4 linked regions of the Homo sapiens genome follow. The protein of the gene in region 3 purifies or fractionates together with the protein of the main gene of each other region. This does not show direct contact. Each region holds a gene or a part of one and is shown on either strand. Other genes may lie near its edges.

What was found.
Region 1: the proteins of RAPSN (region 3) and HERC1 purify together in Homo sapiens (affinity purification with mass spectrometry; 2 studies listed by BioGRID and IntAct, with this or other methods). This does not show direct contact.
Region 2: the proteins of RAPSN (region 3) and KCMF1 purify together in Homo sapiens (affinity purification with mass spectrometry; one large-scale study listed by BioGRID and IntAct). This does not show direct contact.
Region 4: the proteins of RAPSN (region 3) and ZZEF1 purify together in Homo sapiens (affinity purification with mass spectrometry; one large-scale study listed by BioGRID and IntAct). This does not show direct contact.

The regions. Positions count from the first base shown.
Region 1 is NC_000015.10:63,634,569-63,638,454, forward strand, and holds part of HERC1 (probable E3 ubiquitin-protein ligase HERC1), read right to left. Parts: coding exon 3,843-3,886; intron 3,076-3,842; coding exon 2,937-3,075; intron 1,575-2,936; coding exon 1,393-1,574; intron 321-1,392; coding exon 165-320; intron 1-164. UniProt on the Homo sapiens protein: Involved in membrane trafficking via some guanine nucleotide exchange factor (GEF) activity and its ability to bind clathrin. Acts as a GEF for Arf and Rab, by exchanging bound GDP for free GTP.
Region 2 is NC_000002.12:85,026,380-85,030,265, reverse strand, and holds part of KCMF1 (E3 ubiquitin-protein ligase KCMF1), read right to left. Parts: intron 2,378-3,886; coding exon 2,210-2,377; intron 1-2,209. UniProt on the Homo sapiens protein: E3 ubiquitin-protein ligase which accepts ubiquitin from an E2 ubiquitin-conjugating enzyme and then transfers it to targeted substrates, promoting their degradation by the proteasome.
Region 3 is NC_000011.10:47,445,988-47,450,346, forward strand, and holds the start of RAPSN (43 kDa receptor-associated protein of the synapse), read right to left. Parts: upstream 3,150-4,359; 5' UTR 2,978-3,149; coding exon 2,786-2,977; intron 2,164-2,785; coding exon 1,825-2,163; intron 1,451-1,824; exon of another isoform or gene 1,340-1,450; intron 1-1,339. UniProt on the Homo sapiens protein: Postsynaptic protein required for clustering of nicotinic acetylcholine receptors (nAChRs) at the neuromuscular junction. It may link the receptor to the underlying postsynaptic cytoskeleton, possibly by direct association with actin or spectrin.
Region 4 is NC_000017.11:4,132,975-4,136,860, reverse strand, and holds part of ZZEF1 (zinc finger ZZ-type and EF-hand domain-containing protein 1), read left to right. Parts: intron 1-3,886. UniProt on the Homo sapiens protein: Histone H3 reader which may act as a transcriptional coactivator for KLF6 and KLF9 transcription factors.

The sequences.
Region 1 (3,886 bases), on a different chromosome or scaffold from region 3:
AATTTCACATTGGGAAACAGTTAAAATTATCAATTAGACCATAGCAAAATGTACATGAGGTTAGGTACAACTGGTGATCCTGATCTTCCTGAGGGTGTCTAAGCGAACACAGAAGAAATGAGAAACAATGATCAGCTAGAATATCTTATTGATTTATTCCATGCCTGTCCAATCTGATATCCCTCCAGTGCAGTCACTCTCTCTGGAAGTTTTTTGTTAGAGGTATTTCCAAGACCCAGACGACCATAGTCACCATTCCCAAAGGTGAACAGTTTGCCATCTGAAGTGACCACTGCTGAGTGCTTGAAGCCACAAGACATCTAAGACAGAACCAAGGAGAAAGAAAATTTTTAAGAAGGGAAACTAAGAAAAAAGTAAATCTGCCATTTTTGGTATTAATATAGCAATAAACTTTACATAAACTTCACTGAAAACTGGATCTTCAAAGACCAATGCTTTTAAAAATTTTTTTTTTTAATTTTTTTTTAAATTTTAAAGAGACAGTGTCTTGCTCTGTCACCTAGGCTGGAGTGCAGTGGTGTGATCACAGCTCACTGCAGCCCCAAACTCCTGGGCTCAAGCAATCCTCCCACCTCAGCCTCCCAAGTAGCTGGGACTACAGGCATGTGCTACCACACCTGGCTATTTATTTCTATTTTTTGTAGAGACAGGGTCTTGCTATGTTGTCTAGGCTGGTCTCAAACTCCTGGCCTCAAGCAATCCTCTTGCCTTGGCCTCCCAAAGTGTTAGGATTACAGGCATAAGCCACTGCATCTGGCCAACTGGTACATTTATCTGCCCAAGTTGCTCTCCTGCTCTCCCAAGTCTGATCTGTCTCAACAGCCTCAGGAAGCCCAAGCTGAACAGCATACCCTGGAGTAACTACTGCTACTCTTCAGCTGTGTACACATGACCTAGACTAAATGAGATAATAAATGGGGAAATTGTTTGTAAACTATAAGGTGCTATACAATCTTACAATATGATTTTAGAACACTATTTTCCAGAAAATGCATGTTAACTTAGCTTTTGTAACATAAATGATAGGTTAAAAGCAAAGTTTTCCTTTTATCTGTGTATTAAGAACTGTGTGGCAGAAGTTAAACCACACAATATTCCTTCCAAGGGCGTGCAGCACCCTAGTCTGGGCCAACCAGCTGGCTCACGAAAAAGACCATTCTAACCAATACTAACAAGACCAATACTAACACCAAAGCCTATTCAAACTTCTGACAAGCTCAAGAATGAATCTGAACATCCAAAACCAATGGATCTCTTATAATTACTGTGTAATATATTTTTACTATATTTTCTGTTACCTAATTTTAAGAAACCTATTCAACAACTAGTATATTTACAATGAAAGGCAAACTTATCCATTTCCTGCCTGACCTGCACCACTTCTTCTCCTTGTAAGGCCTCGATCTGCCTGGGCCGCCGCTGCCTGTCGCTGTTCCCATGGCCAAGTTTACCATAGTCACCATCTCCCCAGCTAAAGACCTCACCACTTTCAGTTAGGGCCATAGAGTGCCCATCAGAACCACAGGAAGTCACCAGCTGGGTCACCACAAAGCCTGGAACAGAACAGAAACCCAACAGGAGTCACTGGATGTTAAAACTCTCCTCTTTACTTGCAGCTGCTACTGAATACCCTCAATCAAAAACCACCGAATTGGTACTATGAAAATAAGAATAATTTCATTAGTTTTTTTTTTTTTTTTAGATGGAGTCTCACTCTGTCATCCAGGCTGGAGTGCAGTGGTGTGATCTCGGCTCACTGCAACCTCCACCTCCCCGGTTCAAGTGATTCTCTTGCCTCAGCCTCCTGAGTAGCTGGGATTACAGGCATGTGCCACCATATCTGGCTAATTTTTGTATTTTTAACAGAGACAGGGTTTTACCATGCTGGCCAGGCTGGTCATGAACTCCTGACCTCAAGTGATCCGCCCACCTCGGCCTCCCAAAGCGCTGGGTTTACAGGCATGAGCCACAGTAACCGGCCTAATTTCTTTAGTTTTAAATTGAATTTGTAGCCATAACCTAGCAAAACTGCGAATAGTCACCTAAAATAATGGTGATGACAAGGAAAACGAGGATGACAGCAATAGTTACAGTCATTAATGACTGGCTATGCTCTAGCCACTCCTATAAATGCTTTACATGGATTATCTCATTTTCTACTTTCACATAGCACCTATGAAACAGATACTAACATCCCATTTTTACAAGTGGGAAAACTGAGTCACAAAGAGGTCTCGAAGCTTGTGCAATGTCCCAGAGCCAAGGACCAGTAGAACCCATAGGAACCCAGCACACATTCTCATCTTTACTGCTGTGCTCTTCACACTCAGATCACAATGAAAAGAACCTGAGCTTCTAGGAACTTGTTTTGAACTCATAGTTACTTGTATGCTTTTACCTAAAAAAACCGTCGGTGCTCTCTTTGTAGGCTTCAGAGTCATTATGAGTTCAGTTAATGAGCAAGCCGGGGGCTTGTACAGTGGTTTCTCCAAAGGTGTTCTCTCTCCAAGTCACAAAGAACTCTGATGAAGATGTCCTTTAAAGTCTTTAGCACATTTGCAGATTTCCATATAAACTGATTTTTAATTTTAATGAAATACATGCATGATTGCTACTGCTATTAACATCTGCCTACTTACACTTTTGCAATTTTTAAGCATTTGTTTACAATCTTCAGTGGGTCTCAAAAAGTGTTATTTATATTTCACTGAATTCTAGCATTGCTATAAGTAACCTGCAATATAGCTTAAAATATGGAAATTAAGGCTGCACACATGCCTAAATAAGGATTTAAATGTAAGTGAAAACCTGATATGATTTTATCTAGCAAAGGTTTGAGAAGGGCAAAGGTTTGTACGACCAAACCTACATTAGGCCTTAGGTTCTAACCATCTTTTTATTAAGGACAATTTTACCTTGTAAGGCTGAAATAACTGTCAGCACATGAAGGTCATCTGAATTTCCTTGTCCTAATCTGCCATAACTTCCTTCCCCACAAGCCAACACTGTGCCATTGGCCTGGATGACAAAGGTACAATTCTGACCACAAATGACCTAGTATAAAAACACAGAATTAAATATTTTATTCTTTATTATATTGCTTTAACATGCAAGCACTTGAAATGATTCCACGTATACATAGAATGCTTTTATAATTGTTTTATCCTTTTACTGAAAGGGAAGAGTTGATATAACTATGCAGTCCCGTAACTCCTTGATGACTATAAAACTGCTTATTTAACCAAGAGATGTATGAGATTCATCCATTTAAAATAGTTTAGAACAACAAAATGGATGAAAGAAAAAGGAAGGGGTGATGGGGAAACATTAAAGACTGGGCTAGAAAGAAGCAGAAACTCGTACATAAGAATGAGTCATGCAATCTGGACTAGCTGAGGTAAAGAAGAGCAAAAGAGAAAGCAGAGGCCTCGAGAAGGGTTTGGCGCTATATCGTACCAGGATTATTAGAAAAGGGGAGTGGTCGATAAAATCTGGCTAAAGATCCTAGGAAGTTTTTAGCCCCAAAGAGAAAATCACTAATTAGGAGTATCTAAACTGCTAGAAATACATACTGGGCAGGCCTAACACATCATGATGTTAGTTCATTAAACTTGAAAGAAAAATTTAGAAATTTGTTAACTTCTTAAGTCTGATAAAAACCACACCAAGTTTTTATTTGAAAGCTATATATCATGACTTTCTTTAATGATTCCTCATAATAGATTATGAAATGGACAAGCTTTATCCCACAATAAGACAAGCAAAAGAATTAGAATTTTCAGTTCCCATGTTTCTTTTCTATTTTTTATCCTGTTAGTTACCTGTTGGGCCTGTGAGAATGAGGGAGCTGCTGCAGGTACCATTA
Region 2 (3,886 bases), on a different chromosome or scaffold from region 3:
TTTGCAAATCATCTATCAGATAAAAAAACTTACATAAGGAATAAAAAACTATTACAATTCAATAACAAAGACACATTATCCAATTAAAAAATGGGCAAAGGATCAAGGTATTTCTTCAAAGTAGATATACAAATGGCCCATAAGCACAAGAAAAGATGCTCAACATAATTTATATTTCAGAGAAATATAAATCAAAACCACCTGAGATACTACTTTACACCTACTAGGATGGCTGAAATAAAAAGGACAAAAAGTGTGGGCTAGGTAAGAAATTATAGCACGAAGCCAGGCGTGGTGGCTCATGTCTGTAATCTCAGCACTCTGGGAGGCCCGCAAGTGGATCACCTAAGATTAGGAGTTCAAGACCAGCCTGGCCAACATGGTGAAACCCTGTCTCTATTAAAAATACAAAAAAAATTTTCTGGGCATGGTGGCGGGCACCTGTAATCCCAGCTATTCAGGAGGCTGAGGCAGGAGAATCGCTTGAACCCAGGAGGTGGAGGTTGCAGTGAGCTGAGATGGCGCCATTGCACTCCAGCCTAGGCGACAAGAGTGAAACTCTTGTCTCAAAAAAAAAAAAAAAAAAAATTATAGCATGAAACATTTATATATTTTCTTACAATGTCTTCTAATCAACTGTAGAAACAATCTGCCTTTTTTTTTTTTTGAGATAGCGTCTTGCTTTGTTGGCCAGGCCGGAATGTAGTGGCACAATCAGGGTTCACTGCACACTTGACCTCCTGGGCTCAAGTGATCCTCCCATCTCAGCCTCCCAAGTAGCTAGGGCTACAGATGCATGTGCGCCACCACATCCAGCTAATTTATTGTATTTTTCGGGGGTGGATGCAGAGACAGGGTTTTTGCCATGTTGCCCAGGCTCATCTCAAACTCCTGGGCTCAAGTGATCTGACCATCTTAAGCCTCCCAAAGGGCTGGGATTACAGGCGTTAGCCACCATAACCAGCCAACAATCTGTTTTCTGGTCACTACAAAAGCTATTATTGCTGGGCATGGTGGCTCACGTCTGTAATCCCAGCACTTTGGGAGGCGAAGGCAGGTGGATAACTTGAGGTCAAGACCAGCCTGGCCAACATAGTGAAACTTCATCTCTACTAAAAATACAAAAAAATTAGCTGGGCAAGGTGGCACACACCTGTAGTCTCAGCTACTCAAGAGGCTGAGGCACGAGAATTGCTTGAAGCCAGGAGGCAGATGTTGCAGTGAGCCGAAATCCGGCCACTGCATTCCAGCGTGGGCGACAGAGTGAGACTCTGTCTTAAAAAAATAAAAAATAAAATAAAATAAAGCTATTATTTGTGTGTTAATAGCACGAACAAAAGACAGAGCATATTTCTTCTTTACTGAAGCACTCTTCTATTTCATTCCTTGTCAGTTGTGTATATTTCTGAATGGTTTTTTTAAACAAGTAAACTATGATTAAGATGAACAGACAGAATTACTTAGTACGTAAAAAGTAAGGCCGGGCGCGGTGGCTTACGCCTGTAATCCCAGCACTTTGGAGGCCGAGGCAGGTGTATCATTAGGTTAGGAGTTCAAGACCAGCCTGGTTAACATGGTGAAACCCTATCTCTACTAAAGATACAAAAAATCAGCCGGGCATGGTGGTGCACGCCTGTAATCCCAGCTCCTTGGGAGGCTGAGGCAGGAGAATCGCTTGAACCTGGGGGGTGGAGGTTGCAGCGAGCTGAGATCACGACATTGCACTCCAGCCTAGGCGACAGGGTAAGACTCCTCAAAAAAAAAAAAAAAAAAAAAAAAAAAGCCAGGCACAGTGGCTCACGCCTATAATCCCAGCACTTTGGGCGGCTGAGTCGGGCAGATTGACTGAGGTCAGGAGTTCGAGACCAGTCTGGCCAACGTGGTGAAACCCTGTCTCTACTAAAAATACAAAAAAATTAGCCAGGCGTGGTGGTGTGCACCTGTAATCCCAGCTACTCGGGTGGCTGAGGCAGGGGAATTGCTTGAACCAGGGAGGTGGAGGTTGCAGTGAGCCAAGATCGCGCCATTGCACTCCAGCCTGGGCAACAAGAGCGAAACTCCGTCTCAAAAAAAAGTAAGATTTATTTCATGTTTAATGAATTTGGGGCTTATGGTATGCTGCTGGGGAGTTTTAGAACACTTTGCCTTTACTTCTTCAACGTACATAAAATTCTAAATGATGTAATTCATTAAATTTTTAATTACTTACCAAAATCTACCCTTGTTAATATGCACTGCATTGGGTGGTCAGTTGTATGCCTTGTTGTTGTTGCACCACTTTCATAACAAGATGCACAAAGATCGTAATCGTAGCAAATTAAACACTTATATCTGCGACCTCGAAAATTTCCTTTTAAACATGCATCACAGCTGACACCTATAAAAAAAAGAAATATCTTTAGTTACCAGTTGTAAAGGCCACTCTTGATTTCATTTTTATGAATGTTTCAGGTGCTCATTTAACCTCATATGTCCTTTCCAAAATGACTAGAAATGACTTAGTAAAATGATACGGGAAGTTTTAGCCATGTGCTGGATTCATTACTCTGATTTATACTCCACATGAAAATAATTTAAAATGACTGATACAGGCTGGGTGCAGTGGCTCACGCCTGTAATCTGAGCACTTTGCGGGGGTCGAGGCGGGTGGATCACTTGAGGTCAGTAGTCCAAGACCAGCCTGGTCAACATGTTGAAACCCCGTCTCTACTAAAAATGCAAAAATTAGCTGGGCGTGGTGGCTGGCACCTGTAATCCCAACTACTTGGGAGGCTGAGGCATGAGAATTGCTTAAACCCAGGAGGTAGGGTTGCAGTGAGCTGAGATCGCGCCACTGCACTCCAGCCTCACAACAGAGTGAGGCTTTGTCTCAAAAAAAAAAAAAAAAAAAAAAAAAAAAGCCTTGATAAGCCAGCAAGAAGGTAAAAACCAAGACGAAGAGGAACTGGTGACTGGAAGCACTAAAGAAGGCTTTTCACCATGAGGGTATTTGCCCAAGCAGGTAAAAATCTAAGCTTAAGGTCCACAGCATTATTGGACAAAGGCCTAGTGAAGGTGGGATAATTAACAGAAGATTCCTCATAAAACCAAGACCCTAATATACTCTCAATGCATGGGTAGGCTAGAAATCCTCCCTAGGGGATTACAAAAATTACCCCAGTGAAAGCCCCCTGCCCTAGGGGCACAAAATAACACAAAAAGCCATAACCACAAACCAGTCCTCATGGGTTTATAGCCCAAATTCTATCAAATGGTTCCAAAGACCTTGGGTCAAGAATTTTAAGTGGTCTTAAATTAGAATTGATACCAAGCATCTGGCATATATAAACATCCAAAGAATAAGTTCATAATTTAAACCATAAAATACACACAAAAAAACAAAGCACCATCAGAAAGAACTAGCAGGAGCAGCAGAATCAGTCATGAGTTCATATCAGAATTGGGGCATCAAATAATTCTTGACCTGTTAAAAGAAATAACTGGGTGTGGTGGCTAACACCTATAATCCCAAGCACTTTGGCAAGGCGAGGCAGGGGGATGGCTTGAGGCCAGGAGTTCAAGACCAGCCTGGGCAACATAGAGAGATCCTGTCTACAAAAAAATTTAAAAATTAGCTGGGCATTGTGGCCTGTGCCTGTAGCCTTAGCTACTTGGAAGGTTGAGGTGGGAGGAATGCTTGAGCCCAGGAGCTCGAAGCTGCAGTGACCATGATCAAACTACTGCACTCCAGCTTGGGAACAGAACAAGACCCTGTCTGGAAAAAATAAAAATAATAATAATAATAATAATAATAATAATAATAATAAAGGAAAGAAAGAAGCTTGAACAGGGCTGGGTGCCATAGCTCACACCTGTAATTCCAACACTTTGGGAGGCTAAGACAAGA
Region 3 (4,359 bases):
GAACACTCATGGCTCACTGCAGCCTCAAACTCCTGGGCTCAAGCGATCCTCCCGCCTCAGCCTCCTGAGTAGCTGAAACAATAGGTGTGAGCCACCATGTCTGGTTCATTTTTAAAGTTTGGTGCAGATGGGGTCTTGCTATGCGACTCAAGCTGCTCTCAAACTCCTGGGCTCAAGCAATCCTTCTGCTTGGCCTCTCAAAGTGCTCAGATTATAGGCATGAGCCTTGCCAAATTAAAAAAAAAAAAAAACTGTTTGTAGACGCTGGTCTGGAACTCCTGGTCTTGAGCGATCCTCACCCCTCAGCTTCTCAAAGTGCTGGGATTACAAGTGTGAGCCACCAGGCCTAGCTTACTTTTCTTCAGAATTAAAAAGGTTTTTAAAAACCCCTGTCCTGCCCCAGTCCTATCTCATCTCACTGAATGGCTCCCCCTTACATCTGCTTCCTAAAAACAAAGTCCTGGCTGTCATCCTTGGTGACTCGTTTCCTCCCATCCCACCTTGGATCCATCAGCATTTATCCACTCACTAACTCCAAGATTTATTAAGCATCTACTGGGGCCAGGCATTAAATCCCCCATGGACCAAGCACAGCACAGATACCTGAGGGGAAAGGGAACAAAAATACCCAGGGTTGGCCGGGTGCGGTGGCTCACGCCTGTAATCCCAGCACTTTGGGAGGCCAAGACGGGCGGATCCCTGAGGTCAGGAGTTCAAGACCAGCCTGGCCAACATGGTGAAACCCCATTTCTACTAAAAACACAAAAATTAGCCGGGCGTGGTGGTATACGCCTGTAGTCCCAGCTACTTGGGAGGCTGGGGCAGGAGAATCGCTTGAACCCAGGAGGCGGAGGTTGCAGTGAGCCGAGATGGCACCACTGCACTCCAGCCTGGGTGACAAGAGCAAAACTCCGCCCCTGCCCCCGCCAAAAAATACCCAGGATCAGAACCTGCTGTGGCTGATCCTATCAGTTCCTTCACAGTTGGCCCTCCTCCTCTCACCTCCCTACCTCCGCACACACCTGAGACACGCCTGGCAGCCATGCTGGCCTCTGTCCTTCCTGGAACATTCCAGGAAACATTCCAGGATGCTCCCCCAGGGTCCAGCTTGGCTTTAGGGGCTCGCCCATTTTTGCCTAGAATGCTCTCTCACCAGATTTTTGCATGGCACACCCTCTCTTCTTCAAGCCATCAAACATCACCTCTGCGAGGCCCTCCGACCACTATATTTGAAATTATGACACCCCCACGCCCAGTGCTGCCAGCCCTTTGCCCCGCTTCGCTTTCTCCTAACCACTTGACTTCCTGACTGTGTTGATCGTCTTTCTTCTCCAACTAGAATGCAACCCTCGTGAGGACGGGGACTTGGCTGTTTTTCTCACTGCTACACCCTGGGTCAACAGTCTTGGGATACAGTAGCTGGTCAATAAATATTTGATGACTGACTCCATACAACCCCACTGTAAGGTGAGTCCTATTCTCCTTCATTTTACAGATCTCTCCCAAGGTTCAGAGAGGATAGGTGACTTGCCCAAGACCACACAGCAAACATGGCAGTGCAGGCCGCTGGCCTGTCCTCACAGAGGAGCCTCCCATTATTCCTCCAGGAAGTCACACAGATCAAGGTTTGAATCCTGGCTCTGCCCTTGCTGGCTTCCTGGCCAAGTTGTTACCTTCCTGGATAAGCCTTTTTGCTCTCTGATTCTCACTCTCCTCAGCCCTCCCTAAAAGGAGGGCTGAATGAGGTAGTGCCACAGGGTGTGTGCCTCATGAGAGGGGAGCCCCAAAACCCTCCACTGCTGTCCCCCTGGGGTGCAGGCCCACCTTGACCTGGGCATAGAAGCTGCCCAGGCTGCAGCACACGCGGCACTCGAGCATGGCGTCATCATTGTTGTGGGCATAGCGCAGGGCCTTCTCGAAGCTCTCCAGGGCCTTCTGGAAGACGCTGAGGCCCAGGAAGGCATTGCCCATGCTCAGGCTGACCTGGCCTCCGAGCTGGGCACCTGCCCTGGTACCAGGCAGCCCAAGGCAGGTCTTGCAGTAGGAGATGGTCTTGTGAAACTCGCACAGCTTCTCGTTGCTGCGTGCCAGGTTCAGGTAGCTCTCCAGGAGGAAGTCGGCATCCTCCAGCTCCCGGGCCGTGTCGATCTGGACCACAGCGAACTGCACACAGCGACGGTGGGCAGGTGGTGCTCAGCCTGGACTCTGAGCCTTGGACCCCAGCCTGCACTGCAGGCTCAGACCTGGAGGCCCCACACCCACCCCCCAGCCTCACACCCAAAGCAGCAGATCCCAAAGCTTCTTTTCAGACCCAGAGCTTCTACCCGCCAGCCTCAGCTACCTTCCCTACACCCCAGCCTCACCTCCCAAGCTCAGGCTTGCAGCCTTCACCTTCTATCCCAAGCCTCAGATCTGGAGTCTCCACCACCCACCCACCCCCAGCCGCAACCCTGGAGCCCACACCCCGCCAGGCTCAGACACAGAACACCAGACAGGAAGGCTGAAACCTACAATGGGCTTGAGACCCACAAACCCTCGACCCTGAGGCTGGAGAACCTCAGTCTCAGAGACTCGGGCACCACAGTTCAAGGCCACAGGCCTGAATCTGATGCCAAGACTCAGTATCTAAGACCCAGGGCCTTAGATATAAATTCAGAGCCTCGGGCCCTGGCTGCCAGCCTGTGGGACACAGGGGAGCCCGAGGAGGCCGAGAGGGGACTGGGGAGCCTGGGAGACATCCGGCCCCAGCCTGACCCTCGAACGCCCCCAGGCCGGGTACACCCACCTTCAGCATCTCCTTGTAGCGGCCCATCTCCGAGTGGGCTGTGACCAGGCAGCCCAGCACGCGGAAGCGCCCCATGAGGTCCGAGCTCTTCTCCAGCACCTTTGTCCACACCTGCAATGCCTTCTCTGTCTGGTTGGACTGGTACAGCTGGAGCCCCTTCTCGATCTGCTGCTTGGTCTGGTCCTGCCCCATCCTCCCCAAGCCCTGTGTCCCACGTGGGGTGATCCCTGGTGGCTCCGTGCCTCTAGGCACTCATGGGGCAGGAATCACAGTGCCAGCTGCCCCCCGAAACGTGGGAACAAAAGCAGCGTCGGGTGGGAGCCGGAATGGGGCCTGGATGGAGAGCAGGCGCCACCCTGGGAACAAAGCTGGTTCAGCCCGTCTGCAGCTGTCGCTGCCAGTTGGGGCCACATGGCCTCTGAGGAATGTCAGCAGCAAGGTCACGTGGGCCTCTGCTGCACCCACCCGCGAGCTGGGACGTGGCTTCCCTGAGCATACAGGCACCTTGCCACCTGGGCACCCCCTTGGGCGTCCCTTAGGCACCTCTGACACTGACCCTGACCGCCCTGGCAGCACGGGCCCTCCCAGCAGCCTTGCCAAGGGGCCAGCTCCAGCAAGTGGGCAGGCCTTGGGCTAGAGGTGCTCGGGGGAAGGAGAGCGAGGCTGGACCTGCAGGTCCGGGGAAGCCAGGTGAGCGCCCAGCCCTGCTTCTTCCCCATCAAGACACCCCTGACCGCAGCATCCCCTGGCTCTGTTCCTGAAATTCACTGAGCACCGTGGGTCACTCATCCAGGCCCAGGCTGACACCATTCACCAACTCTCACCTTAGAGAGTCTGGGAAAGACCTCCAGCTGGTGAGAGGCCTGAGCTCTAGCCTGGCTTCCTTCGAACTCTCAGTGGGACCCTAGCCAAGTGACCTGGCACCGTGGACTGAAGAGAGGAATGGTACCTGGCTCACTGGACTGCTATGAGAACTCAATGACGAAAGAGTTGAGAAGGACTTAGGACAGTGCCCGGCACAGGAAACCCCGCATGTGCTGCAAGAGGCTATTTTGCTCCATGGCAAATCCCCACCCGGGCCAGAACCCAGCCCTTGAAGTTTCAATGTCTCACTTCCAATCCCAACCCCGGGCTGAAAGGGTCCTCATAATGAGATTTAACACCAGATACTGTGGAGAAGGGCAAGGTCTTATGTAGTATTGGGGCCCCCGCTAGCAGGCCAGCTCATCCAGCCCCCCTTTCTCCTCTCTCTGCATGCCAGCCTTCTTCCTGCCCCAGGGCAAAAGTTTATCCTTTCTGGCTGGGCAATTCAGTGGTTTTTAGTATATTCACAGAGATGCACATTAATTGCCACTAATTCCAGAACATTTTAACCACCCCAAAAAGGAGACGCACACCCATCAGCAGTTACACCACTCCATTCCCCACCTTGATATGACTGAATCATGTCCCCCCGCAACCAAACGCATATGTTTAAGTCCTAACACTCAGTATCTCATAAGGTGACTGTCTTTGGAGACAGGGTCTTTAAAGGGTGATTAAGGTAAAATGAAGTCACATTGTACCTCATCCAG
Region 4 (3,886 bases), on a different chromosome or scaffold from region 3:
CTGGCAAAGGAAGGAAGGGATTTGCCGTATGAAAGGCACAGCATATGCAGATATACTGGAGTGAGAGGGCATGGCACGTTTTGGGAATGATCCTTTAGCACCTAGCCTACAGTCTGAACCAGCTGGGACCTTGGTACTCATTGCCTGCAAGCTGCCCCCTCTCTGCCCCCGAAAAGGGACCCCTTTCATAGCAACCTGGACGGGTGTGTAATTAGCCTGTAATGGCATCAGCGGGTTTGCCGTGTTATGAGTCTGCTCATTCTGCTGTTCTTCAGACTGAGCTTGGGAACTGGGCCTCGAGCCAGCCTGCTTGTGAGCAAGTTCTAGTTCCACCATTCTCAAGCCAGCTGACTTTGGTCAACCTACTTGACCACAGTGTCTCAGTCGCCTCACCCATAAAACCAGCTCACCTGCTCAGTGCTCAATAAGTGTTGTAATTGGCAGTGTTACTGTTTTCTATGGTTGTAGTTCAAGATGTTTATTCTAGCCTCTGTAATGTCTTTGTTTTTTTTTTTTTGAGACGGAGTCTCACTCTGTCGCCCAGGCTGGAATGCAGTGGCACAATACCGGCTCACTGCAACCTCCACCTCCCAGTTTTAAGCGATTCTCCTGCCTCAGCCTCCCGATTAGCTGGGATTACAGGCACCTGCCCCCATGTCTGGCTAATTTCTGTATTTTTAGTAGAGACGGGGGTTTCACCATGTTAGCTGAGTGTGGTGAAGCGCGCCTGTAGTTCCAGCTACTCGGGAGGCTGAGGCAGGAGAATCGCTTGAACCTGGGCGACAGGTTGCAGTGAGCCGAGATCGCACCACTGCACTCCAGCCTGGCAACAGCGAGACACCGTCTCAAAAAAAAAAAAAAAAAGAGAAAATATCAGAGTACATTGTAACTGATGAGAAAAAGTATTGCATTGTTTCTTGGAACTTTGATACCAATTATGTGTATGCTAGGTCATGATGCAAAATGTATTTTACTGGATCAGCCAATAAAAGTTGAGAAGCACTTGTTCTGAGGTTTATTGACAAACTAGAGGGATCCCAAAGGTGACAATCAGGATGGGAATGAGACTGAGACCATAGCAAATGGAGAGCTGGTGGAAAGAATGGAGAAGGGTTTGGCAGGAACTCCGAGGACCTGATCGCTGTTATCAGTGATCTGCAGGTTGTCTCTGGGCAGAAGGAGTAGATGTGTTCTGAATGGCCCCAGGGATGGTAACTTTGGGGAGGCAGGTTTTCAGTTCACTAGAGGAAGAGAGTTACTGCTGTCAGAACTGTCCAGAGGAGATGAGCTGGGAAGCATCACTGATGTGTGTAACAGAAAGTGGCTGAGCGCTCTCAGAGACACTGGAGAATGGATTCAGGCTGTACAGAGGCACCTTTTTTTTTTTAAGATGGAGTCTTGCTCTGTTGCCCAGGCTGCAGTGCAGTGGTGATTTCAGCTCACTGCAACCTTTGCCTCCCAGGTTCAAGGAATTCTCCTGCCTCAGCCTCCTGAGTAGCTGGGACTACAGGTGCCCCTCACTACGCCAGGCTAATTTTTTTGTTTTTAGTAGAGATGGGGTTTCATCATGTTACCCAGGCTGGTCTTGAGCTCCTGGGCTCAAGCAATCCTACTGCCTTGGGCTCCCGAAGTGCTGGGATTACAGGCGTAAGCCAACGCATCTGGCACAAAGGCACATATTTTAAGAGATTTGTAGGTCCCACACATAAGAGAGCTTATGCAGATCTGGGGTGATCAGCGCCCTCCACCCTTAATAGTCTCCAGTGGCCCCATGGTGCCCTTACTGTAATATCTGAGCTCTTCATCCTGGGTCTGCCAGGCTCTTTTTATTCTGACCTCTAGCCCTGTCTTCATCACCTGCCCTGTTCCTTTCCAGCCACACCAGGCAGGTCATAGTTCTCACTATCTGCCATACAGTCTTTATGTATGCTGACAGTCTGTCTCCTCTACCTGAGATTGCCTCTCCCTCGCCATATACTTTCAAACTCCTAGTTACCCATTAAAGCACAGTTTAAGGGTTGTTTTTTTCTGGGCCATTTCCCCTAACGCCCCTCCCTGTCTCGGACTTCTCATCCCTGGAGTGTCTGTTGGCCCATGGTATAGTGGTTAATTGTGGCATCTGGAATCAGTCCAGGATTCAAATTCAAGCTCCATCGTGTACTAACCATATGCCTTAAAAAAAATAACCTCTCTGTTCGTCACCAGCAAAAAGGTAGTACCTACCTTTAGAGTTGTTGTGGAAAATATAAGTTGATCCATGTGAAGGGCTTAGAACTCTGCCTGGTGCTCACTAACATTGGCTGTTGTAAATAGTTTATACTCTTAGTTCTCGTATCGTAATTGTCACACCTATTACATTGCTGCTGTTGGTTTACAGATCTGTCTTCTAGGCTGTGAGGTTTTTGAAGGGAAAGGACTGTGTGCCCTATTCATCTTTGTATCCACAGAGCCAAACACAGGATCAGGTATTTATATAATAATTATATATTATATAAATATATATATATAAATATATATAAATATATATATATTTTTTCTTTTTGAGACAGGGTCTTCATCTACCACCCAGGCTAGAGTGCAGTAGTGTGATCACAGCTCACTGCAGCCTTGACCTCCTAGGTTCAAGCGGTCCTCCCACCTCAGCCTCCTGGGTAGCAAACCTGAACATTTCTTTTCTTAAGACAGTCAGTTTTTGAGTGTTAGGAAATTACATAATTATTTGGTGAAGCTGTTCACAAAGCTGTGGTAATTTTTTTCTTAGCCAAAATTATTTGTTTTTGTTTTATTCGAAAATCCCTTTTATCATATTCATTAACTATTGATGAATCAATAGAATCTATTAAAAATAGCAAAAATGGCCTGGCACAGTGGCTTATGCCGATAAATCCAGCAGTCTGGGAGGCCAAGGCAGGAGGATTGCTTGACCCCAGGAGTTTGAGACCAGTCTGGGTAACATAGTGAGACTTTGTTTCTACAAAAAAATAAAAAACTAGCTGAGCATGTCCCAGCCACTCAGGAGGCTGAGGTGGGAGGACCGCTTGAACCTAGGAGGTCAAGGCTGCAGTGAGCTGTGATCACGCTACTGCACTCTAGCCTGGGTGGTAGATGAAGACCCTGTCTCAAAAAGAAAAAAAAAAAAGATAGCAAAAATGTCAGTATTTTTATAGCCTTGGTTATATAGAATTTTTATTAGCAATACACAGCAGGAGTTGTGTGGGAAGTTGGAGGTGCAGGGAGTGCTTGATTTGTGGAAGTTTTGGTGGAAGTGGGACTTGAGTGCTACCTTGAGATTCAGAGGGAGTGAGTCTCACTTCTAGAGTTGATAGGAGTTCACCTGGACAAAAGGAGCGGAAAGCAGCTTTTATAGATGGAGGAAAGTAATGGAGCTAAGAGGTTTTAAGCATTTGGTCTTCAGATGGTAAGGAACCCGAGGGGTTATCTGGTCAAAGGAAGGGGAAGGGAGTTGTGGTGAAGAACATGAACCCTGAAGCCTTGGATGCAAACACTAGCTGTGTGACCTCAGGCAAGGTACCTGACCTCTCTGTACAACTATAAGACGGGGAGGTTAATAGTACTGTTACTGTTATGAGGAATAAATGACATTATAGTATATAAAATGCTCTGCTCGGTGCCTGGCATTTAACGAGTGCCCAAATATTGATTCATAGTTTCCAAGTCTGTGTGTCGTTCCCAACTGAATGAATGATAGCTGTGCTAATCTCCTCAGACCTTGAGTCTTACAAATATCATTATTTTCTCAGTATGCTATAATGTGAACAATTTGGGAAGTAGCTATTATCTGGTAGTGTAGCGTTCCCACCGCAGGGCCTCAGGGAAGATGAGGCTCTGCTCTGTGCCACCTCCTTCTTCCCCCACCTGCTCCACT